Linked DNA regions of Homo sapiens: regions 2 and 3 are each linked to region 1. The links come from fine-mapping of genetic effects on gene expression. A gene starts in region 1. Each other region holds a variant in brackets. All regions are shown on one strand. Distances are between the middles of the regions.

Region 1 (8,175 bases):
CGAAGAGGAGCATTTTTCATTTTTCTTCTTAATCTCTAGCTGATGGCTTCCTTCTCACCTCATCATACCTGTAAACTACTCCACAAGAGGCAAAAAGAAAATCATAGAACGTCTGGGTGTGTGATTTACATTTGTCCCCAATGCTGCCGTTCATTTTGGGGATGGCATCCGCAGGGGTAGCGCTTGCCCCAGAGAGCAGGCCTGCTGAAGGCCCACCCCCTGTGTAATCCTCCCTGTGACTGCTTCAGCCTCCACATTTGAGTTTCTCCAGGGACCCTTACACCAGCCTTGGTGCCTAGGGCAGGCACAGGGCCTTCGGCTTTTCCATAAGGGGTGAGGGTATGGGGACAGCTTCCACGGTGCCAGGCTCTTGGTGACTCGGGTGGAGGCCCTGCCACCCCAGCTCCCTCTGCAGCAGTCCTGGTGTCATGAAGAAGCCTGGCAGTTCCCACTTTGTCTCCAGGTCTTGCTTCTTCCCTTCAGATGCCGGATGGAGAGCAGTGCTCCCCTCGCACTTCGGTTCTGTAAATGGCAGTGGATGAAGACCGCAGACGCTACTGGGTTCACAGAATGTGGCTGCCACCAGCATTCTCCAAAGACTTCCCCTGGCAAATGCCAATGAAATGAAGGGGAGCCACAGGCTTCCCAGAGGCTCAGGAAGCAGAAACACTGAGGCCTGGTTGGAAAGAGAGCTGTAGGCAAAGGAACGGCTGCAAACAAACTGGGTGGAAGGAAAATCCATCCATCCTTCAGAATGCAGTCATGTCTGTATTTTTCTAAATTCTCATTGGGGAACATGTTCTACAATAAGGAAAACATGAGTCAAAGACCCCCAGCCCTGGTGAGGTTGACCGCCTACTTCCTCCCCCATTCAGGGCTGCCCAGCCAGTCCTGCTGGTAAACCCACCACCCTGCCTTCCACCTGCCTGTGTTCTAGTCCATCTGTCTCGTCTGATTGGGATCCTGTGCCATCCATATCATATTCATCCCTGAATCTCAGCACCTGGCTCTGGAAAGAATTCAGTAAATGTTCATTACATAAATTATATACTCAGTTACCAAAATGGGTAACAGAAGAATGGAAATTAAAAAGTGGGTTCTGGCTGGGAACGGTGGCTCATGCCTGTAATCCCAGCATTTTGGAAGGCCGAGGCAGGCGGATCACTTGAGGTCAGCAGTTTGAGACCAGCCTAGCCAACATGGTGAAACCCCATCTCTACTAAAAATACAAACATTAGCTGGGCATGGTAGCACATGCTTATAGTCTGACCTATTTGGGAGGCTGAGGCAGGAGAATCGCTTGAACCCGGGAGGCAGAGGTTGCAGTGAGCCTAGATCACTCCACTGCCCTCCAGCCTGGGTGACAGAGTGAGACTCTCTCTCAAAAAAAAAAAAAAAAAAAGAGTGGGATCTGTCTCTTAGGTTTTCAGAAAGGCCAGCTGACTCCATTGAGAGCTGCTGAGTGGAATTGCTACCATTTTATGGATGTGGAAAGTGAGATTCAGCATAGATCAATGCCTTGGCTAGGGCAGGATCATGGGCTTTTTCCTAAAGATGCACAGGGTCTATAAGAGGCCTCATGAAATTCACTCCTTTCAGGGGAGGACCTCCAGAGAACCAAGGAAGAAGATATTTTCTGTTGTTGTTGTTGTACCTTGTAGTCACCAAGCCTTAAAAACACAGATCACCTGATGACCTCATGGATGGAAAATGCTAGTGAATTTAGGTGTTTTTTTTTTTAAGACATTAAACTTATCTAGCTTTTGAAAATTTAGCATTCATACTTGTATTCAATAAACAGAATACTCTAAGACATTTTTAAATTCAATATGATTAGATAAATGTGAGAAAGGTAAGCAAGAATTGGTTAGGAAAAAGTGCAAAGGAAAAAAACGTAAGTAGAAAAAGAAAAATAGGGCACAGTAGCAAGGAAATATCTAGAAGGAGGAAAGAAGGCTCTTGGGACATACTGTAGGTTATTTGGAATGCAGAATTCAAAAGAAGTAACCTCTTGTTACCATGCTGTGAAAAATTAGTATTTCTCTTTTTAACCTTTAGACTCTGTTTCAGGTAGATCCCTGAGCTCACTCTTTTATCCTTTCAACAGTAATTGGGCATCCTACGGTGCACAGGATACCATGTGGGGCTCTGGGGTAGAGGGATGCTGTGCTCCAGGGCCCTCCTGAGGTCAGGAGGGGAAAAGGCAAGGGAAGCAGCCCCAGGACTCAGTAAGATGAGAGGAGGCAGGAGCAGCACAGAGGAGGACCCCAACCCAGCTGGGGTGCGGGTACAGAGGCACCTCCAGGAGCAGGCACTCAAGCTGAGTCCAGGGTGGGGTGGAGGGCATTCCACCAAGAATGAATAGCAAGAACAAGGCTGCAGATGACCCTGCACAGATTCCAGCATCAGGGATTCTGGCCCCCAGCGTCCCTTTCCTTGGTGTATGCTGCTGGAAGACAGGAGGGGGCAGTTCTCTTTTGGTCCTTAGAAATTTCCCTATAGACATCCCTTCTCCTGCCCCTAGCAGCTTATAACAGCAGAAGGCCATTCAATTCTGCTCCTCTGGCTGGAAAGCAAACATCAGCCTGGCTTACCTTCGCTAGCCTGCCTGACCCCCAGCCTTGGGGTGGGGCTAGGTTAGTGCCCTGGATCCTTAAACATGGCCCCTGGTAGCACATAAGCCTCTGCTGCCTCCACAACCAGCCATCTCCATCATGCATGGCCTGGTCCTGAGCCTCCCCTCAGGCAGCAGCCCCAGCCTCTCTGCTTCCTGAGATTCAGAAACAGGGATCCCAGGGCAGGGCTCAGGGCCCAGCCTCTTGGGGGCACAGTCTCCAGCAGGGAAGAGGTGGGCGTAGGTGGACAAATACATTCCCTTCTTCTTGTAGTGTGCCCCTGTGGGTGGGAGTGCCCCCCGCCCCACATCCACCCTACCTATGCTCATGCCCACTCCTCTGTGCCCACTACTGGTGGCAGGGCTTGCTTAGCAGGGAAGCAGCAGAGCCCTGCAGAGGGGTGGGCAGAGCCTCCCTTCCAGGAGCTGGGAGAAGACACCTGAAGCTGGACAGAGCTTTATCTGGGAGCCGGCGGCTGCTGAATAATGAATTCCAACTCTGCCGCACTCCCAGGCTGCACATTGGGTGCACACACACACACACACACACGCACACACCGATACACACACGCTGGGCTGACAACTTGGAGGGGCGGGGGCTGTGAGGCTCTGTGAGTCGCTGCAGGAGCAGCTTAGCTCGGCTTGGTTGCCTTGGTCTCTGTGGGCAGCATCGGAGGGGGGTCGGGAGGAGGAGGAGGAGGCAGCGGCAGAGAAGAGAGAGGCGTGTGAGCCGTGCTCCACCGGCTAGCTCCTTCCCGCTGCTCCTGCCTGGCAGTGCCAGGCAGCCCACACCAGCATGGCCTTGCTCATCCACCTCAAGACAGTCTCGGAGCTGCGGGGCAGGGGCGACCGGATCGCCAAAGTGACTTTCCGAGGTAGGGAAGCCGCTGTCTCAGAGGGACGCCAGCTCTGAGAGCTGGACCAGCCCATGCTCTGGAGGTGGCCGGGGATAGGACAGGGCTGGGAGGATGGGTGGGAAAAGTTCTAGCAGGGGCTGGGGCGACGAGCCTTTTCACAGGTAGTCATCTGCCTGGGACTGACTGGCCATTGTGATTTCTGGAAAATCAGGGTCCCCTGTTCTTCCATGCCTGTGTCTCCTTGTGCTTGCCAACATGCCAGTTCCCCGGGCAGGGCACAGAGCCCTCTGCCTGGGGAGGCAGAAGTGAGGACCACATCCCTGAGCTCAGGGAGACCCAGGACCCCCTCCTTCTCTCTCTCTCCCTCTCCTGCAGGTTGATTTCCTTGAGCACAGGGTGGGGGCCGGGTATGGAGCCTGGGGCACCCAGGGTGACTGGGAGAAACCAGGCAGCCAGTAGCTCCCTGGGCCCCAGAGTGATGGGGGACACTGTTGGCTTCTTTTAGATCTATTCATGGGCGGGAACCCCGGGAGCCCCTCGCCTCTCTTCTGTCTGGTCTTTTCTCATCCTTTTCACTCCTGTATTCAGCGACCATTTATTATGATCTACTGTGTCCCAAGGATAGGGGTAGAAACACAGAGCTGAGCACAACCCAGCCCCAGCCCCAAGGAGCCTGCATCTGTTGGGCAGGCGTGGAACAAGCAGGACAGGTATGTGAGACAGAAGGTGGGGGTGCAGCATGCAAGCTACAGAAGCAGCACCCTCACCCAGGCTGGTGACCGGTGGTCAGGGAAGGCTTCCCGGAGGAAGTAACACTCAGCTAATACCCGAAGGACCAGCGGGTGGGAGCTAGGAGAGGAGGTAAGGACTGAGGAGGCAGAGGAAACAGTGTGCCCAGAGCTGAGAGAGGAGCTGAAACTCTGGAACTGAAAGAGGTTCCATGTGTCTACAGCTCAGAGAGGGTGCAGGAGCGGAGGCCAGAGAGCCAAGCAGGGCAAGGAGGCGAGGCTGGACCTGACCCCGGGGACAGCGGAGCCCCTGAGCATTTTAAGTGGGGAAAGGCAGGGCCAGGCTGACTCTGTCCTTCACCACCCACCTCTGCCTCTCCATGTGGTTGCTGCCCAGCCCTGAGGGTTGGGGGTACTTCTCACTAGACATGGCCCCTTCTCCCGAGAGAGGGGTCTGAGAGTGGGATGGGGACGAGGTGGTGAGAAGGGGGCAGAGAGGACCCCCCTATACTAAAGAGCAAAGTGAGCCTTGGGGCCCAGGCTGGACACAGTGTCTGCACCTCTGTTGGAAGGGATGGGAGAGACCATTGGCAGAACATTCCAGCAAGAGCCCTGGGGCACCCACATCACCTACCCAGAGGCCCTGGGATGCCCACATTGCAGCTTGTGTTCATAGGGACAGGCAGGGGTGGAGGTGATGGCAGTGGCCCTGCCGGCAGGCGGAGGTTAGGCAGGAGGGAGAGGGAGGTGTGGGCTGGGCTGCCTTTTGCCTCCCACCCCAACCCACTGACTGCTTTCTCTGCAGCACCCTGGATCTCCCTCTGTGTGCCACCTGCAGGCTCATGCTGGCTTTAGAAAAAGCAAATGTGTCCTTTCATCTGTGAAATGTGGCCCTGAGCTCCACGGGCAGCATAGTGTGGGGCGGTTAAGCTACAGGTTGCCATCCTGCTGCAGCTGTGCTGGAACGGTCCAGGCTGCACCGGACAGGCCCACTTGCAGGCCGAGAAACCAAGGTTCAGGGGTAGAACACTGCGCGTGGCATTCACGGAGGAGCTGAGGCACGGTGGTCCCAGCTCTCAGGACCTCATCCTGAGTACTCAATCTTGCAAGCTCTTTATCTGCTCCTGGGCCACCTGGGGGCCAGCACCTTGTCTGACACCCATCTTCTCCTTGGAGCAGTGAAGGGCTGGGCCTTTAGCCTCACTGACCACACAGGAATTAGTTTATTTGCAACCCTTGCTCTCTGGACTGAGTGGAGAAATCGCTTCCAAGCTCCACATTGGCAGGAGGTGGCCATGGGCAGAGCTCCTGGGGAAGGGGGCTGGGCAGCAGGAATAGGCAGATGACAAGCAGTTTCCAGAAAGTACCTTTATTACAACGAAAGATGCCTCAGCCGCTCACCTGTGTCATCTAGCAGTTCACAGTTGTAGGCGCCCCAAAAGACCAACACTGACCACAATTCAGAGGGAATGGACCCGCTCTACAATGTTCCTTAGCATCTCCCAGCACATGCAACCACTGGGGGCCAAGCAAGTCCTCTGCAGGGGGAAACAAGAAACTGGTAAACACGCAGAGGGAGACACTGGCCCCAGGCTCCCCAAGGCTTTTGAGTGAAAGTCAATGCCGGGGGAGGTGGTGAGGGAGCCCTTGGTGAGCTGTGCCCATTGGCAGTGGCCCTAGGTAGGCCAGAGCAGCTGGTTGAAATATGGCTTGACCTTCTGTGCTGTGCCATCCAAGACACTAAGGAAAGAGCCCTCCTGGGCTATTGTGGAAAAAGTTCTGGATATGGAGTCAGAAGCCCTAGATCCTACCTGGGTTCTGCCACTCACCCTCAGTTTCCTCATCTGTAAAATGGGCATGATAATAACACTCACTTCACTAGATTGCTTCAGGGAAACCATAGGTATGGAAGAGTTTGTGGGAAGAGTATTCAAATGGTCGATGTGTTTGTGAGGCAGCCATTCCCATTCTCCTTGGGAGCAGCTGCTGGCCCCTGAGGTATCTTCTCTCCAGACCAGCAGAGGGCCCCATGTGAGATATAAAGGGAAGAGGAGAGCACGTCTAAGGGGTTCCAGTCTGCCAGGAGAAGGCAGAGAGCCTGGACTCTGCTCTGTAGGAGCCTCTGCTGAGATGTTCCGCAGGAACCCAGGCAGGCAGACCCCCGAGACTCCTGTTCTCATCTGGCTGGGTGTGCACCAGCTTTGCCCGTGGCCACCTCTTTTCCCACTGCCCTCAGGCCAGTCGGCCCCTCGGTCAGTGCTCCCAGCCAGTTCTGTATCTAGCTCTTAGTTCTTACTGCCCCTGGCTGCTCCTAAGCTGGTGCTGCCCTGTTCATGCATTTCCTGAACATGCTAATATTTGTGCACAGGCCTGGGACCCTGAGGTGAAGGGGCCAGCCTGGCCCTCCAGGAGTCACAATCCCATTGGGTCAGACAGGAGATAGGGAGTCCTGGGCGAATCTCTATTGTGCCTGCAGGCCACAGGGCTCAGCTGGGTTTCTCATTAACAAAATGGAGACAGTGGTCCTCATTTAGCTCAGAGGCCTGCAGTTCCCAGGAGTAATCAAGAGTGGGCTATCTAAGAAGGAGCCATCTTGACCACAGGTTGCTACTCAAAGAGAGGAAGTATTAGCTTCAGGTATTTCCTTTATCAACTCCTGAGATAGTTCCCTACATCAATCACAGAGCCACAGAACGCAGGGTGTGAAGGGTCCCGAAGTTCTTCTAGTCCAACCTTCTGTCCAGTGCTGAGCACCAAGGCTGGGGGACCTGGACTGTAAGGGAACCAAGTGACAGACAGTCCAGGGCCAACCCTGATGTCTCCCTTCTCTTTCTATCCCCTGAGCCTTCTTGCCAAGACATGAGGTTTGGGGATTTTCTGTGTGAGATAAGAACATCTAAAGGCTGGATCTGGCTTCCACATAATTCACTGTGGCTGGAAATTGGCACAAAGGTTTGCAGGGCATCCCCCTCCACCTTTTCATTCTTACTCTTCTTCCCACCCTCCCCCTGATTCCCACCCTGCTATGTTCCCACTACATTCAACTTCCAGCCATTCCCAAAAGATACCACACCCTTTTACACCTCCAAACTTTGAGACATCGATCATATTTCTTCTGCCTGGAATGACCACCCTCCACCTTGAGAACGCCCATTAATTCTGCTCATCCTTCAAGGCCCAGCTCATATGCTACCTCCTCCATGAAGGAGTAGTACTTTGCACACAAAGTACTCCTCTAGCAGTACTTTGCACACATTCTTCCTACTGCTCTGCCAAGGTACATTGCATTTCAGAAACTGGCCACACCTCTGCATGCTGCCCAAGCTTTTGAGCATCTTCAGGACAGACATCAGACATGGTTTCTGTCTTTGAGGGATTCACTGTGTCATGGGTTTGAGTTCTTCCACTGTGGCACTGTCACTCTTTGGCTCCATTTCCCCAACTGTGAGCTCTCACCCCAGAACTTTCTATCCAAGGAGGATCAAGGGACTGGAAGAGGCCTCAAGGGCCAAGAACCAAGAACCTTGGCTCTTACTCCTTCCATCAACTTCCCTAACCCAGAGAATCTTCTAGGGCTCCAGAGGGGCCTAACGATTTTTTTTTTTTTTTTTTTTTTTGAGTCTCGCTCTGTCGCCAGGCTGGAGTGCAGTGCAGTGCGATCTCGGCTCACTGCAACCTCCAGCTCCTGGGTTCAAGCGATTCTTCTGCCTCAGCCTCTGGAGTAGCTGGGACTACAGGCACACGCCACCATGCCCGACTAATTTTTGTATTTTTAGTAGAGACGGTGTTTCACCATATTTCCCAGGCTGGTCTCAAACTCCTGACCTCATGATCCGCCTGCCTCGGCCTCCCAAAGTGCTGGGATTACAGGTGTGAGCCACTGCGCCCAGTCAAGCCTAACAAATATTAGCAAGTTCAGCTCCAGCCCATAGGTGGGAAGCAAGAGGGATTGCGTGTGTAAGCCAGAGTCAGTTAG
Region 2 (8,175 bases), 82 kb after region 1:
CATGGGGTGGACCACGCCCCATAAAGGGGCCAACCCTCAGCTCCACCTACAGGGTGAGGCTGTGTTTGGGACCTGGGGCAGAGGGCAGGGAGAAGCCCTTCCCGGGGCTGGAGAGGAGAGAGTGGGAACTCAGGCCACAGCCTGGGCCAGGGCTGGGCCTCGCACTCAGGCGTCATGAGGACTCCCTGACTCTCAGCGGAGTGGGGACACGGGCTAATGCTCTCTGGCTAATGATGTGTCACGTCTGAGCCCCATTCCCTGACTCTCCCTCTCCCCTTTCCCAAACCCAAGGCAGCACCGGATTGGACGGTGGGAGGGGCCTGGTGGGGAATGCACTCTAGGCCTTCTGGGCCCATTCTGCTCCAGGCAACTATGGGAACGAAGTTGATGGCCTGTCCCGGCCCCAGCGGCCTCGGCCCCGGAAGGAGCCGGGGGATGAGGAAGAAGTAGACCTGATTCAGAACGCAAGTGATGACGAGGCCGGTGATGCCGGGGACCTGGCCTCAGTCTCCTCCACTCCACCAATGCGGCCCCAGGTCACCGACAGGTGGGCCCAGCCTCCCATCCTCCTGTGGCCTGGCCCTCCCACCTCCCTGGGCCCCCAAGACCTCACCTCCCGCCTCTGCCCACCCCAGGAACTACTTCCATCTGCCCTACCTGGAGCGAAAGCCCTGCATCTACATCAAGAGCTGGTGGCCGGACCAGCGCCGCCGCCTCTACAATGCCAACATCATGGACCACATTGCCGACAAGCTGGTCAGGGCCAGGCCAGGGGCCAGCAGGGGTGGGGTCCTGGGGGAGACGGCGCTGTCAGAGGGCCTTCCCTGGAACACACAAAGCTGGTCTGCCCAGGGGGCTGCAGGAACGGCCCCAGCAGGACCTCTGTTCCCATTCTCAGCCCCAGGTCCCAGGGCACAGACAAGGACAGGAGCCACCTCTAGTCACTCAGCCTCCAGTGAATCCTGGGGCAGGAGTGTTGGGTTCCCTGATTTTTCCAGAAATCTTAAAAGCAAGGCTAGGGAGACAGGTGTGGTGGCTCACGCCTGTAATCCCAACACTTTGGGAGGCCAAGGCAGGTGGATCACCTGAGGTCAGGAGTTCGAGACCATCCTGGCCAACATAGTGAAATGCCGTCTCTACTAAAAATGCAAAAATTAGCGGGGCTTGGTGGCGGGCACCTGTAATCCCAGCTATTCGGGAGGCTGAAGCAGGAGAATCGCTTGAACCCGTGAGGCGGAGTTTGCAGTGAGCCAAGATGGCGCCACTGCACTCCAGCCTGGGCAACCGAGCAAAACTTCATCTCAAAAAATAAAATAAAATAAAATAAAACAAAATAAAAAAGCAAGGCTAGGGAAGGGAAATGGGGAAAAGGGAGAAGCGAGCAGTGTCTGAAGCTCAGGAGCTGCCCCCTCCTCCTCTGCCCACCCCTCTCCCCCCATGAGCCATGGGCACTGACTGGGCGAGGAGTGCAGCTGTTGGCATGAGACCTCCTTCTCCCCAGCCTGGGGAAGCAGGGACCAGCAGATAATCCCGCCCTTCCCTGAGCTGTTGCTGTTCCCTGTTGAAGTTCCCTGAAGCTCAGCCAGCTCATATTTTATAAAAATGAATTAAAACCTCCAAAAAAATCAAGGCTAATATGAGGTCTGCTCCCAGCCCCCTGCCAATGTCCTCCTTGTCATCCCTGTCTTGTGACTATAACCACAATTAAAGCCCATAGCCTTTGCAGTGTGACCTGGGTCTGCAGTTATCTGCAAGGCTTCCCCCTAAGGAGCTGGGGTACAAGCTGACCTGTGTTTCCTGTGGGACCTGGGTCTCACAGCCCTCCCAGTGCTCTCAGAGCCAGAGCCACTCCCTCTTCCCCCAGGCATCTGTTCCCATCCCCTGCCACAGGCTCCAGCATTCTGGAGTGACGTCAGGATCTTGGCACATCCAGTCCTAGGGTTTCCCTCTGTCTCTGGCCAGCCCTGAGCCCCGTAGCCGTGAGTTCTGCCCAGGCCCTGTGAGCTCACCAGAGCCACAGACTCACAGCCCAGAGGTGGCTTCTTCCTTCAGGAACTGAAGAACCCCCATGAACACCAACATCTCCAGGTTCTGAGAACAGAACCTGGGAAATTGATGACTTCCTCATGATGACCGATACTCAGGATGGCCCTAGCGAGAGCTCCCAGATCATGAGGTCCCTCACTCCCCTGATCAACAGGGAGGAGGCATTTGGGGAGGCTGGGGAGGCGGGGCTGTGGCCCAGCATCACCCACACTCCTGATTCACAGGAAGAAGGCCTGAACGACATACAGGAGATGATCAAAACGGAGAAGTCCTACCCTGAGCGTCGCCTGCGGGGCGTCCTGGAGGAGCTGAGCTGTGGCTGCTGGTGAGAAGGGAGGGGCGGCAGGTGGGGGGAGGATGAGGCGGAACTGGACAAAGGGGACCCTGCCAGGGCTGGGCAGATGAGGAAGAATCTACAGAGCCCCTGCTGGTCAGGCTCGCTAAACCCCGGCTCGCCCTACCCCCAGCCGCTTCCTCTCCCTCGCTGACAAGGACCAGGGCCACTCATCCCGCACCAGGCTTGACCGGGAGCGCCTCAAGTCCTGCATGAGGGAGCTGGTGAGGACGCAACTGGACGGCGGGGGCTGGAGGGAGGGCCTGGTTGTGAGAAGGTGTCACAACCCCCTTTGTCATGGCCCGAGCTGTCCCCCAGTTGCTGGGTTCACTGACACCCCCTCCTTCGCAGGAAAACATGGGGCAGCAGGCCAGGATGCTGCGGGCCCAGGTGAAGCGGCACACGGTGCGGGACAAGCTGAGGCTGTGCCAGAACTTCCTGCAGAAGCTGCGCTTCCTGGCGGACGAGGTGCGGCCCAAGGGGTCGGGGCTTTGCCTCATCCAGGGCTGGCTCTCTGGGGCCCCTCAGGATCAGGGGGCTCAATCAGGAGGCTAGACCCCCTTACCCACTGCCCCTGGCCACCCCCCAACCCCCAGCCCCAGCACAGCATTCCCGACATCTTCATCTGGATGATGAGCAACAACAAGCGTGTCGCCTATGCCCGTGTGCCCTCCAAGGACCTGCTCTTCTCCATCGTGGAGGAGGAGACTGGCAAGGACTGCGCCAAGGTCAAGACGCTCTTCCTTAAGGTGCTGGAGGGGGCAGGATGGATGGGGGCCTGGGTCCTTTCAGGGGAGCAGCAGCCCCCACCTGGGGCTGGAAGCCTGAGTGACAGGGTGGGGCCTTCAAGCAGCAGGTGCTCAGAGAAGAGCCAAGAATGGGAAGGACGTGGGGGAAGGGGTGGGGAAGGAGGTGGGGGAAGGGGTGGGGGAAGGGGTGGGGAAGGAGGTGGGGGAAGGGGTGGGGGAAGGGGTGGGGGAAGGGGTGGGGAAGGAGGTGGGGGAAGGGGTGGGGGAAGGGGTGGGGAAGGAGGTGGGGGAAGGGGTGAGGGAAGGGGTGGGGGAAGGGGTGGGGAAGGAGGTGGGGGAAGGGGTGGGGAAGGAGGTGGGGGAAGGGGTGGGGAAGGAGGTGGGGGAAGGGGTGGGGAAGGGGGCATGACGGCCCCCTGCCCATCCTCCTGCCTCCACCGGACCCCAGCCCAGCGGGATGGCTGTGAAGGGGCAGGGCAGCTCTGACCAGGGCCTCTGCCGGCCCCTGCCCCTTCCCCACCTCTTGGGCCCTGGCAGCCGTCAGGCTCCTGGTGACCCCATGCCCACCCCCAGCTGCCAGGGAAGCGGGGCTTCGGCTC[G/A]GCAGGCTGGACAGTGCAGGCCAAGGTGGAGCTGTACCTGTGGCTGGGCCTCAGCAAACAGCGCAAGGAGTTCCTGTGCGGCCTGCCCTGTGGCTTCCAGGAGGTCAAGGCAGCCCAGGGCCTGGGCCTGCATGCCTTCCCACCCGTCAGCCTGGTCTACACCAGTGAGTGAGGACCCCTCACTCGAAGCCTCACCTGGGAGGGGGCCGGAGGGGCTGCCCATCCTGGAACCTCAGGCTGCCCTTCCCCACAGAGAAGCAGGCGTTCCAGCTCCGAGCGCACATGTACCAGGCCCGCAGCCTCTTTGCCGCCGACAGCAGCGGACTCTCAGACCCCTTTGCCCGCGTCTTCTTCATCAATCAGAGTCAGTGCACAGAGGTGAGGGCCTGGGAGGAGGGAGTGGCTCTGGCTTTGAGAGCACCAGAAGCCTGTGAGCCTGTGGGGACTGGAGCCTGTGGGGCCTGTGAGCCTGTGGGGCCTGGAGCCACAGGTCAGCCAGTGCCCCGGTTTCTCAGGGGAAGCCCTGCAGATAACTGCAGCAGACGCGGGTCACACTGGAAAGGCTACGGGCTTTAGCTGTGGTTATATTCACAAGACAGGGACGACAAGGAGGACATTGGCAGGGGGCTTGGGCCAAACCTCATATTAGCCTTGATTTTAAGATTTCTGGAAGAATCAAGACACCTGTCACTCCTGCCCCCAGGTTCCGTGGAAGCTGAGTGAGTAGGGGTGGCTTCTGTTTGTGCATCTGCCCCCCCCTCTGTCACTTGTCCCCTGTCTCCCCATCCCATGCTGCAGGTGCTGAATGAGACCCTGTGTCCCACCTGGGACCAGATGCTGGTGTTCGACAACCTGGAGCTCTATGGTGAAGCTCATGAGCTGAGGGACGATCCGCCCATCATTGTCATTGAAATCTATGACCAGGATTCCATGGTATGGGTGGGCTCTGGTGCCAGGGACCCCAGCAGCACCACACCTGGCCCTTGTTCCCTGCACTCCACCTGCGCTGAGGCTGTGCCCTCACCTCCGCCACCCACCTGCAGAGCTCCTTGGCCAGGTGCTGGCTGGGAAGCTGGGAGTGGGGGCTGACATCTAGCTCCTCCTGCCTGCTTGCGGCAGCCTGACCCCTTCCCAGGCCAGCACATCCTCACCTCCTGTCTCCTACAGACTGAGCCCTGGAGGTGTGCCAGCAAGTCCTGCTGTCACTAGCCTCCCCACCCCAGGGCTCCCCGACCCCTGCCCTCACCTACCACAACCAGTAACAGCCTTGCCATCCTCCGTGGAGGTTCTGGAGCAGGGAGTAAGGGATTGGGGTGACCCCCGAGAGTTAGCGAGCCACCTTCTCACATACCACCTCAGCTGCTGAGGTGCCCAGATAGCCCTGGACTAGAGGTAGGAGGACCTCATGTCTAGTCCTGAGCCGGGCATCTGCCATTTACTGACTGCTTGGCCTTGAACAAGTCTTTGGTGGGCCCTGAGACTTGGTTTCCTCATCTGTAAAATGGGGTGATCACACCTGTCCCTTACAACAACTCATGGCGCTGTGGTAAGGACCAAACGAGATCACAGGTGTGGACAGCAAGCACCAAGAGGCTTCTGGGTTGTCTGTTGCGTCAGGGCAAAGCTGACTTCATGGGCCGGACCTTCGCCAAACCCCTGGTGAAGATGGCAGACGAGGCGTACTGCCCACCCCGCTTCCCACCTCAGCTCGAGTACTACCAGATCTACCGTGGCAACGCCACAGCTGGAGACCTGCTGGCGGCCTTCGAGCTGCTGCAGGTGGGACTGCAGGGAAGAGGGGCTGAGGCCTGGGGACTGGAGGCTGGGAGTTGGGGCCTAGGGCTGGGGGCTGGACCCTGAAGGCTGGGGCCTGGGGTCTGGGGCCTGGGGGTGGGGCCTGGGGGCTGGAGGCTGGGGCCTGGGGCTGGGGGCTGGGGCTGAGGGCTGGGGCCTGGGGCCTGGGGGGTTAGGGCCTGGGCGTTAGGTCCTGGGGGTTGGGGCCTGGAGCTGGGGCCTGGGGGCTGGGGCCTAGGGGCCTCTCTCCTACCCATCCTGACCAAAGCTGGGGGCGTGGTCCTTAGGGGGTTTCCCTGTCTCCCCAGATCATGGCAAACAACTCATGGGGAAAGAGACCCTGTCCCTGGGCTCCCCAGTGTGTGACCTGTGACCCCCATTCCCCAGATTGGACCAGCAGGGAAGGCTGACCTGCCCCCCATCAATGGCCCGGTGGACGTGGACCGAGGTCCCATCATGCCCGTGCCCATGGGCATCCGGCCCGTGCTCAGCAAGTACCGAGTGGAGGTGCGAGGGCTCTGTGTGGCCCTTCCCTTTTGGATGAGGAGTCTGAGGACCCAGGAGGGGAAGTGGCTTGTCATCCCCCTCCCACCACCATCACCAGGAGCCAGCAGCAGACCCAGGCTCCTGCCCCAGCCCAGGGCCTGCCCCCATCTGCACCAAGTCGCACTCCCATGTCCCAGGACCATGCCCAGCCCTCCTGTCTGCACCCCTGACCCTGCACCCCTTCTCCGGGCAGCCCCACCCTCATCCCTGGAGAACGCCTGCCCCTCCTCTGCTCTCCTGGCCCTGCTCCCACCCTTTGAAATCTGGGGTGAACTACTGCCCATCCCACTGCCCGGTTCCCTATTGGATGGTCCAGCACCCCCATGGCTGGCTCCCTTGACTAAGGGGCTCTCTTCTCTGCACCCACCCTCCAACCTCTCCCAGGTGCTGTTCTGGGGCCTACGGGACCTAAAGCGGGTGAACCTGGCCCAGGTGGACCGGCCACGGGTGGACATCGAGTGTGCAGGGAAGGGGGTGCAGTCGTCCCTGATCCACAATTATAAGAAGAACCCCAACTTCAACACCCTCGTCAAGTGGTTTGAAGTGGTGAGTGCAGGCCCTGGCGGAGGACATCCTGTGGCCAGTGTGGCTCCACTCAGCCAGCCGGCTTCCTCTGCCCCTTCTTGGAGGCTCAGGCTCCTGTCGCCAACACCCCAGGACCTCCCAGAGAACGAGCTGCTGCACCCGCCCTTGAACATCCGTGTGGTGGACTGCCGGGCCTTCGGTCGCTACACACTGGTGGGCTCCCATGCCGTCAGCTCCCTGCGACGCTTCATCTACCGGCCCCCAGACCGCTCGGCCCCCAGCTGGAACACCACGGGTATGGCCACATCCACCCTGCCACCAAGCCTGGCTCCACGCCCCCCAGGGAAGGGCTCCAGGTCTCCGCCCAGTCCAAGCCGCGACCAGAGTTTGCTCTTTGGGGCCGAGGGGGTGGGCATAGAAGAAGGTCACCCTGGTGGCCAAGGAAGGCTGCCCAAGGTGACGCCAGCTCTACAGCCAGAGAGGGCAGAACTGGAGACAGCCTGGGGGGGCCTGAGGGCAGAAAGCCCCTTGCGCTGGTTGATGGAGAAGACCCAGGCCTCCCCGCCACCTCCCTCCCACCGGCCTCCGCAGCTTCCCCTTATCTCGGGCTCTCTTCTTCCCTCCCCATGCCCATATTTTCTCCCTTGACTGCCTGTCCCCCTCTCCCTCAGAAAGTTCCAGAATCAGCTTTAGTTCTCCGCACCTTCCTGCCCCGCCAATCTCACTGTTCCTCTTGCTCCTTCCTCTGCCTGTCTGTCCATCTATCCATCTGTCCAGTCAGGCTTCTCCGGCGCTGCCGTGTGCTGTGCAATGGGGGCTCCTCCTCTCACTCCACAGGGGAGGTTGTGGTGACTATGGAGCCAGAGGTACCCATCAAGAAACTGGAGACCATGGTGAAGCTGGACGCGGTAAGGCGGGTGGGGTCAGCCCCCTGCTGGCTGGGAACATGCAACTTCGTGTGACACATCCTGTGAACCAGACTATCTGCCCCGAGAGAAAAGGACACTAAGAGCCTCCTTTGGCATGTGACTGTCGGGGGCTGAGCTTGATTGTGTGTCCAAACAGCTCCCTCCTAATACTATCCTGGAATGCACACGCGTGCGTGTGGTATGTAAATGTGCATGTGTGTGCGCATGTGTGTGGTGTGCATATGTGCATGTGTGTGTGCATGCATGTGATGTATGTGCATTTGTGCGTGCATGCGTATGTGTGGTGTGCATATGTGCATCGTGCATGTATGCATGTGGTGTATGTGCATGTGTGTGTGCATGTATGTGGGGTATGTGCATATGCACGTGCGTGCGTGTGGTGTGCACATGTGCATGCATGTGTGGTGTATGTTCATATGCACGTGCATGCATGCATGTGGTATGAGCATGTGCATGTATGTGTGCATGCGTATGGTGTGCATATGTGCATGTGGTGTGTGCATATGTGTGTGCATGTGGTGTGTAAATGCATATGTGCATGTGTGCAGTGTGCATGCATGCGGGTGGTAGGTAAATGTGCATGAGTGTGGTATATATGCATATATGTGTGCATGTGCGCTTGTGTGCATATGTGCATGTGTGCATGTGGTATG
Region 3 (8,175 bases), 68 kb after region 1:
GGGATGTGAGAAATAGAGAAATACACTCACTCATCAAAACCCAAAGAATGACTTAGAGGCATGAAGAACAGCGAAAGTGAGACTTTTAATAACGGTCTTGCAAGATGGAGTGTCTGGTAGGCAGGCACCCCTGGGGCAGTCACAACAGGAATTTATCTCCTAGTGTGCAAGTCCCTCCCCCACTTCCCCATTGGTTGAGCACTATGGGGTTACAATCTTCCCTGACGTCGCCTAAGTTTCATTTTCCCCCTTACAAGGTTATACCCCGCTCCCCTTCGATTTCCCCACTTAAGTTTCGATTTCCCAATAACAAAACTTTCTTCCCTTTCATGGGCTGACCCCTCCTCTACATTCTGTTCGCTTATTGTGTCCTTCTAGGTGCATGAGCCGTGTGGTTTGTTGCATTCGCAGGTTGGATGCCAGTACTTAGACTTATCCTGCCTTGAAAATGGACCATTGAAAATGTTTTCTCACCAGGATGCCCAGGCCTTTCCCAGATGCCTGATCACACATCAGACTAACCCAGAAGCCACAGGCCTGGGCCCTGCCATCCCTTTCCTGGAGGGTTCCCCAGTCTGTTTCTCCTGGTGGCTCCAGGCAGTGAGGGGTGCCAGGCTGTCCCAAGTAAGGCAGCTGAGTCCCGTACCCTGAGGTGGGTGAGGGCTGAGGTGCCCCCTGTAGCTTGGGGGAGGGCATTTCTCAGGCAGCTCTGAGAGTCCTCAGACTGTGCACCTGCAGGAAGAAAACCCAGGCCCACCTCTGCCCTTCAGCCCAGGCCTGGCCGAACTCTCCTTTGTGACCACAAATTGACTCTGCTCTCCCAGCTGCTTTCCCACAGGCCCCCCGAGCTGGACAACCTGCTCAGGACCCCTCCAGCCCCAAGGACATTCAGGATTGACATCTCTGGCCTTACGTTAGGACACATCCTGACTGGACAAGTCTCCGCCTAGATAAGCATCTATGTCCCCAAGACAGGCATGGAGACAGGTCCCTGTGGCCCCGGTGGTTACTTGATAGCAGTGAAGCCACTTCTGCTAACTTAAGGGATCTCCCTCCACCAGGCCCACACACCTTGGCTTTCATTCAAATTACTTCCTCTTTCCCAAGGGCACAGAGCTGCTCTCCCTACTCTGTGGCTCCCCCAGAAAACTCCTACTCACCCGGCAGGGCCCAGCTCAAATGTTCTTGCTACTGAGCAGCCTTGCCTGCTCTGTCTGGGTCAGAGGTCAGCACTCCCCTTTCTCTGCAGTGTTAATGTCCTGGAGTTGAGGTTGGTCCTCCGTGTCTCTGTCCTGCTGGTGGACTGGAGGCTCCCAGTCTCCTGCCTCGCTATTTGTTCAGAGCCAGGCATGTACTCGGAGGGGTTCAGTAACACTCACCCAAAGGAAGACACAAACATCCACTGAGCATCTGCCGCACACCAGACAGTGGCACGTGGGGCAACATGGAGGCTGCCGAGATGAAGGAGGCACAGTTTCCGCCCTGCGCAGGTCCCCTCCTTGTTTCAGCCTAGAATCTTTCTAAATTCCCTATTTACTTCCTCTAAGACTGACTATTCATTCTGCTCATCTTTGGACAATCTTAAATGTGTTTCTGATCACATTTTTGTTCTTTTTCACAAACCCAAATAGCTCTGATTTTGTTTCTGTTTCCTCTAAACTAGGGTTTCTCAAACTCAGCACTATGGTATCTTGGACTGGATAATTGTGGTGGGATCGTCCTGTGCTGTGTAGGATGTGAGCAGCATCCCTGGCCTCTACCCAGTAGATGCCAATAGCAACTCCCCTTAGTTACAGCTACCAAGTTTCCAGACATGCCAAATGTCCCCTGAAATCGCCCTCAGTTGAGACCACCATTCTAAACTATCTTACTATGATTCCTTCCAGCCCCAAATCAGCCTTTCCAGCCCCAAAGCTTTGTTTCCCTTTTCTTCTCTTTCTATGCCACATTCCTTTTCAATGAAGGACATCCTCCTCGTCGTGGGAATGTATTATTTCTGACTAATTATCTGAGCTGGTAGGAACCTTCCTTTGGCTCCATTAAAACAACAGAGGGAGGTGGGAACAATCAACATGACTTAGGTATCTAAGCTATTACAAAAGGAAAATATGCTCAGGAAATAACAGGAATTTGATTGCAGACAGCTCAGAGAGTTCGGGATTCTGGCTCTAGCTCAGCTAGCTCGCTCCCCTGGGGCTGGCACATCTGCGGGCACCTGGCCTGATCACCCTGCCTGGCCCTGAGCCTGCCTGTGTGCAGGGAAGCTCAAAACCTTTGCCCTTCCGGAACAAGCTGGCCATTCACAAACCAGACTAAGGCTCCTTTCCTGTGTGTCCTGTGTGTGCATCTGGCCCCGCCCTGGGCATCTTGGGAGCGCCACCATCCTTCCTCCTGCTGAAAATCCACCTCTCCCCTTTGCCTTGGATCCTTCTCTTTCTACAGCTCAAAGAACCTGGCATTGCACAGCCCAACTCTGTCTTTGTTTTTCTTCCAGCCCCTTCTTCCTTGCCTATAAGGTGTTCTACTCCAGCATATGCTAAGTACAACCATGAAGACCCATGTGTGCTCAAGGACAGGAACTAGGAGTCTGTCACCTCTCTCTGGGCCTTTCCTCATTCCCACACACTTCTCCAGTGACCTCCTTTTTCCCTCCACCCCTCCACAGTCAGACCACTTGGGTTGTCCTCACTTCCTCCCCCCAGTCACCCCTCAATCTCTGCAGGGTTTCTGCCTCCAGATGTCATTGACACTGCTCTCCTCAAGGTCACCAAGGACATTGCTGTTCCTGAGTATAATGTCCATGTCATCCTCCTCTCCCTTGATCACCCAGTTTCTTTCATCCCGCTGCCTGCTGCTCCTCTTGGGGGCCCCTCACGCCACTCTCCTGCTTCCCCTGTCTCTCCAGCTCCATCTCCCCGGCCTAACTTCTTGGCTGAAAGGCTGTGTCTTCTTGGAGCCCTGACCTGGGCCTGCTTCCCCTCCCATGCTCTCCCCAGGTATCTCCTCCATCTCCAAGGTGTCAGTTACCATCTTGTGCTGACGATTCCCAAATCCATATCCCCACCCGCCTCCCCAGAGCTTCAGAACTCTGGCCAGCACACCCTGGGCCTGTTAGTGTCATGCACAGCTGTCGCTGCTTGCTATGTGCTTACCGTGGTGCACACCTGTGTTAAAGACTTGACCAGGGTGTCTCATTGCAACTTCACAACCACACCTTGAAGCCCCCCAAGTGAATGGCACCCCTGGAGCAGTTCAGCACGACAGCCCTGGATCATATCTCCACATTCATAGGATAATAGGTAAACTGAGGCTCAGGCAAGAAAGTGAGTGATCTAGCAGTAACAGCCAGGTGGGGCTGGCTCTGAAGCTGGCTTTACCCTCAGTGCTCAAGGGCCAGCCCCCAGCAGCCAGGAGCACGTTCTCTTCGGACATTTACCCCAAGCACATTGGAAATATTTCTCCCTTCTCCCCCACCACAGTTCACCAAAGCAGCAGCCCCTCTACTCACTGCCCCACACCCTCATCCTCAGCACCTGCACACCCAGGCCAGGGGAAGAGATGGGGACTGCAAATGTGCATGGCAGCCCACAGCACCAAAGGACAGTGCACACCCATGGCATTTCACATCGACTGCCAACTAAGTGCTTGGCACACCATGGTTCATCTGCTCTGAGGCTTGCGTTATTTTACAGTTTCACCTCTCTGAATTTGGGATGTGTCTCCTAGGCAGCCTTGTGGCTTCATGGCAATGTCCATGTGGCTTATTAAACCGTAGTATATCTTACAGCCAGTAGCCACTTTAGATTTGGTAAAATATGTTACACTGTCTCATCAGAGCCTCATAACAAGACTCTGAGGTGGGTGTCATTATCCCCATTTCACAGCTCAAAAAACTGAGGTTCAGAGAATGTGTTGCTCAAGGCCACACAGTTAAGAAGGTGCAGAGCGGGGACTAGAACCCAGGTCTGCTTGCTCCCTGGCCCTGTGCCTCTTCTGAGCACAGTACAAGGGCATGGGCTGTCCCACCTACTGTTCCAAGTTCCTTTCCCACCCCACACTAGCCAGCACCAGCCCCACCTAGGGGATGGGGCTCTGCTTCCTACCACCCACCACCAGGGTCAATCAGGATCAGATGAGTTGCCTCTGCTGCTCCTCTGAACTTTGGGGCTCAGGGCAAATGTCTGGGGTGCAGACAGGCCCTGCGAGGAGGGAGGGGCCCAACACTGCCTGGGCTGTTGCTGCTGCCCTCAGTGACAGCAGGCCTGGATCCTTCCCCCTCCAGTACTTCGTCTTCGACTTCCATGTCTCTCCGGATGTCATGTTTGACAA[G/A]ATCATCAAGATTTCGGTGAGTGGGGAGCAGCCCCTGGCCGGCAGGGCCACTCCCTCAAACTGCACCTTTGTGCAGACTTGAGAGGGGCCCCCTCTGTCTAGACCCATGATAAAGAGGCAGCGCCGTGCCTGGACACACGGCTGGGCAAGTAGGGACAGGCTGGATTCTGGCCCCCACCCACCCCTTTCATTGGATGCCTCTGAATAGTGCATTCGCCCGTAAACAGTGGCCAGCAAGAAACTGGCGTGGGCAGGAGGAGCTGATGCTGAGCCTCAGTGAGCCACCCCACTCTGCCAACGCCCTCCCACTTCACCACAAAGCTCGGGTCCCACCACTGCCCCATGGAAAGCCTCACCCTTGCTGGGCCTGACGGGTGGGCTGTGGTTCTGCCTGAAAGGTGATTCACTCCAAGAACCTGCTGCGCAGTGGCACCCTGGTGGGCTCCTTCAAAATGGACGTGGGAACCGTGTACTCGCAGCCAGGTGAGTACCTGCGCATGGCCAGTCAGTCGAGGTGTGCATGGCTCAGGGAGCGTGGTGCACGGGGCCCTTCCCACTGTGGCAGTTCCTGGGAAAAGGCTGGCAAGGACCACAGTCTGGCGACTGTTAGTACACACAGCCATCTGGCCTGCGGAGAAGTGGCGCGCACAGTCTGTACACAAATGCAGTGAGCAACTGCGCACCCAGTCTGGTGGGTTCTCACTCATAATTAGGTGAGTAACTCTGCACAGAGCCTGGAAGGAGCTTCATCACACGCTCTGGAGTGCATGGCAGGCTGGTGCATCACTGGCCATAGGCAGGCTGACCAGTAGTGGTAGAGGATGCGGTGAGGGAGACCCGTCACAGCCTGCAGAGAGGCTGCGCCCAGACTCCTGCCTCCTGGGCTGGCACCTGCTGAGCAGAAAAGAACCCCTTTCCACCCCTCACAGGACCCTGCCGTCCCCTTTTACAGTTGAGGCTCAGAGCCAGGGCTTGCCCCAGCCACACAGCTGGCCGGGGGTGAAGTCAGGCTGTGTGTCCCCAGAGCCTCACTGAGCCACACTATCCAATCTGAAAGCGGTGATGCTGGTCAATGCCAGATGTAGTGCGGCGGCCTCTGAGGGACTCTGGTCTCTGAAAACACTTCTTACAAGAGCCCCAGGCTTTTGGGCAGCCATGTGTGCTCCGTGGCGTCCTGTAGGGTAACAGCAATGGTGTTGGCAAGGGAACCCCAAGGGGTGGCCCAGAGGGCTTGTGAGGTGGGCCAGGCAGAGGAAGTGCCTCAGCCTGCCAGATGACAGCTCACCACGTGGGCAGGTTAGGGACCACCCTGTGTCCCTGAAGTGAATGCACTGCTCAGAGTGCTGTAATGACCCCATTAGGCGCTTTGACAGTGAGAACATAATTTCACCCAATTGTCACATTGGGCCCTCACAAAACAGTAATGTAGGCAGCAGCATTTCTTCCCATTTTGCACATGAGATAAATGAGGCTAAGAGAAATGAAGGGGCTTAGAGATACCACTAAACTAGTAGGTTGAACAAATTGGCGATCGCTTGTGGTTCAACCTAAGAGACGTCCAGCTGGTGCACATTACAACTATGACTTAGACCAGGGAATCTGAGTCCAAAACCAAGATTATACACATAAAAATCACAAGATCATAGAACACTCAAGCTGCCCAAGACCTGAAAAACATCTAGTCCAGCCTCTGTGAAGATAAACTGAAGCCCAAGGTGATGAAGGGGTTTGTCCACCATCTAGGAGTAGCACCCCTGTCTCCAGCTCCCAGGCCAGTGCCTTTGCCACCACCCCACACATGCCATAGCCCTCAGCGGAGGGCAGCCCTGCTGACCATCAGTGCCATGGGGAGCAGGGAAGAGTCGGCCTCCTGCCATGTTGCTTTCCAGGAAGCATGCATAGCCGTGGACTACTTGCTTGGAATGACTGGCATCCCTGAGGATAAGCTCCTCCCAGGGCTGAGCAGTGGCCCTGGTACCACTGGCAGGCCTGAGGCCGAGAGCCAAGAGAAAGTCAGGGGGTGGAGAAAAAGGCAGATATTAGTCTAATATGGACCTCTGGGCTTCTGGGTAGTAAAGTCCTGGTGAGGAAACCACCAGGGCATCAGTAAGTGCCAGATGTTGGGCTAAGCTCACTGTCCCAGCAGGCCTCACCCTCACGACCCCATATAGGCATCATTCCCATTTCACCATAAGGAAACTGAGGCTCAGCAGGCTTAAACAGCTGGTCCAGGGCCACATTGTGAGTAAGCGGCAGAAACAGGATGTGGGCCGAGGTCTCCACTTGGGTAACCTAGCTCGAGATTTGCTGCTTCTGCTGAATCCAGCCCTGAGCCTGGTGCCCTCCCAGGGACAGGAGAGCCTGAAGTCACATGGGTCCTGGAGTTGAGACCCAATGTCTTTACTCTGATATCTCCAGTTTGGCCTGAACTTCTTGATGAGTCGTTGGTTCCAGCCAGGGCATTGTTGGACAGCATGCTCCCAGAGACACTCCTGGGTGCTGCTGGGAAGCTTTGGGTGGTGTCGATATCTCTTGGAACTGGAAGGGGTTTCCCGAGAGAACCTCTTCTCACCCTGGCAGGACCACATTTTGTCATTTGTACCACCAGATGCAACATCAGGAAACTGTTTACTGTTTGCTACTCTCTGTTGGGGGTGAGGACGGGCCATACACTCATCCTCATAGATCATAGAGGAAGTCAGGGGCATACACTCATCCTCATAGATCATAAAGGAGGTCTGGGATGCAGCAACTTCCCCAGCTGGGCTACCCTTGACTGGCAGGTGTCAGCCCCAGGCTGAAGGGAGGTGAAATGATGTTTCAGGCTGGTAAGCATATAGCTCAGGATCTCATGTGGTCCTTGTATCTCTAGCCTGAGATCACACAGTATTAGGACTAGAAGGGCCTCAGAAGTCATGAGTCAAGTGTTAACCTGATGTAGGGACCCCCACAGCACCATCTCTGATTGGTCCTCTAACCTTGCTTAGTCCTCCCAGAAATGGGGCACTCACTACTTCTTATTTTAGATATCTTCACTTTCTTTAGGTCATCTCAAAATCTGTCACCCTGTAACCTTCACCCACTTTCACACGTCTCTCTTTCAGGACAAAAAGAAAAATAGCCTTTAAATTTGAAGGTAAATTTTACATTCCTCCTGAACCGTATTCTCTTTCTTTGCTAAATGTCCCCAATTCATCTAACCATGCACACCTCTATACATCTACCCCTGTATCCATCCATCCACTCACCCACCCATCTACAAATCCATCCACCCACCTGTCCACAGATCCACCCACCCATCCATGTATCCATCCATTCACGCACCAATCCATATATCCATTGGTCCACCCACCCACCCATCCGTGAATCCATCCACCCACCCACCCGCCTGTCTACAGATCCACCCACTCACCCATATATCCATCCATCCACCCACCCACCCATCCATATATCTACCCACCCATCTATCCACAGATCCATCCACCTACCCACCCATCCACAGATCCACCCACCCATATATCCACCCATCCACCCACCCATCCATATATCTACCCACCCACCTGTCCACAGATTAATGGCTCCTTCTATCCAGTAATCCATTCACCATCTGTCCGTCTATCTCTCAGCCGGCCAGGCAGCTCACCACCCATCCCTCTGCCCATTTATGCACCCATTCATTGAGCTTTCTGTCCATCTCCTCATCCGACACACATCTGCTCTGGCAAGACCTGAAGCTCCTGGGATTCCTGGGACATGGCCCCTCCCTGGAGGCCTGCCAGCCTGGCTGAGGTTCTCCAGTGACTCCTCATCCACGTGCCTTCCTGCCCTCTCACCTTGCTTGTCCCT

Direction of the effects. Alleles are on the strand shown, and positions count from the first base shown. SD is a standard deviation of normalised expression in the study named. Not every link is listed here.
As copies of G replace A in region 3, the expression in testis of the gene that starts at base 3,226 in region 1 goes up (moderate effect, 0.62 SD a copy in GTEx).

Evidence for each region.
Region 2: its variant is fine-mapped to the expression of OTOF in whole blood (TOPMed, PIP above 0.99).
Region 3: its variant is fine-mapped to the expression of OTOF in testis (GTEx, PIP above 0.99).

The regions. Positions count from the first base shown.
Region 1 is chr2:26,553,807-26,561,981 of GRCh38, reverse strand. It overlaps OTOF (otoferlin), which reads left to right and starts at 3,226. Exons shown (of 47, transcript NM_194248.3): 1 at 3,226-3,489. The coding sequence starts at 3,411. RefSeq lists enhancers at 2,279-3,071, 3,072-3,865.
Region 2 is chr2:26,471,845-26,480,019 of GRCh38, reverse strand. It overlaps OTOF (otoferlin), which reads left to right. Exons shown (of 47, transcript NM_194248.3): 17 at 367-547; 18 at 636-756; 19 at 2,271-2,371; 20 at 2,514-2,604; 21 at 2,732-2,848; 22 at 2,977-3,129; 23 at 3,703-3,892; 24 at 3,982-4,106; 25 at 4,527-4,661; 26 at 5,346-5,507; 27 at 5,910-6,029; 28 at 6,453-6,614; 29 at 6,726-6,888; 30 at 7,371-7,501. Among named protein-coding and RNA genes, the nearest start is that of DRC1, 74 kb to the right of the region's middle. RefSeq lists an enhancer at 2,272-2,461. The variant G/A (reference allele first, on the strand shown) is at 3,729.
Region 3 is chr2:26,485,848-26,494,022 of GRCh38, reverse strand. It overlaps OTOF (otoferlin), which reads left to right. Exons shown (of 47, transcript NM_194248.3): 10 at 4,283-4,345; 11 at 4,728-4,812. Among named protein-coding and RNA genes, the nearest start is that of OTOF, 69 kb to the left of the region's middle. RefSeq lists an enhancer at 228-377 and a silencer at 3,975-4,217. The variant G/A (reference allele first, on the strand shown) is at 4,330.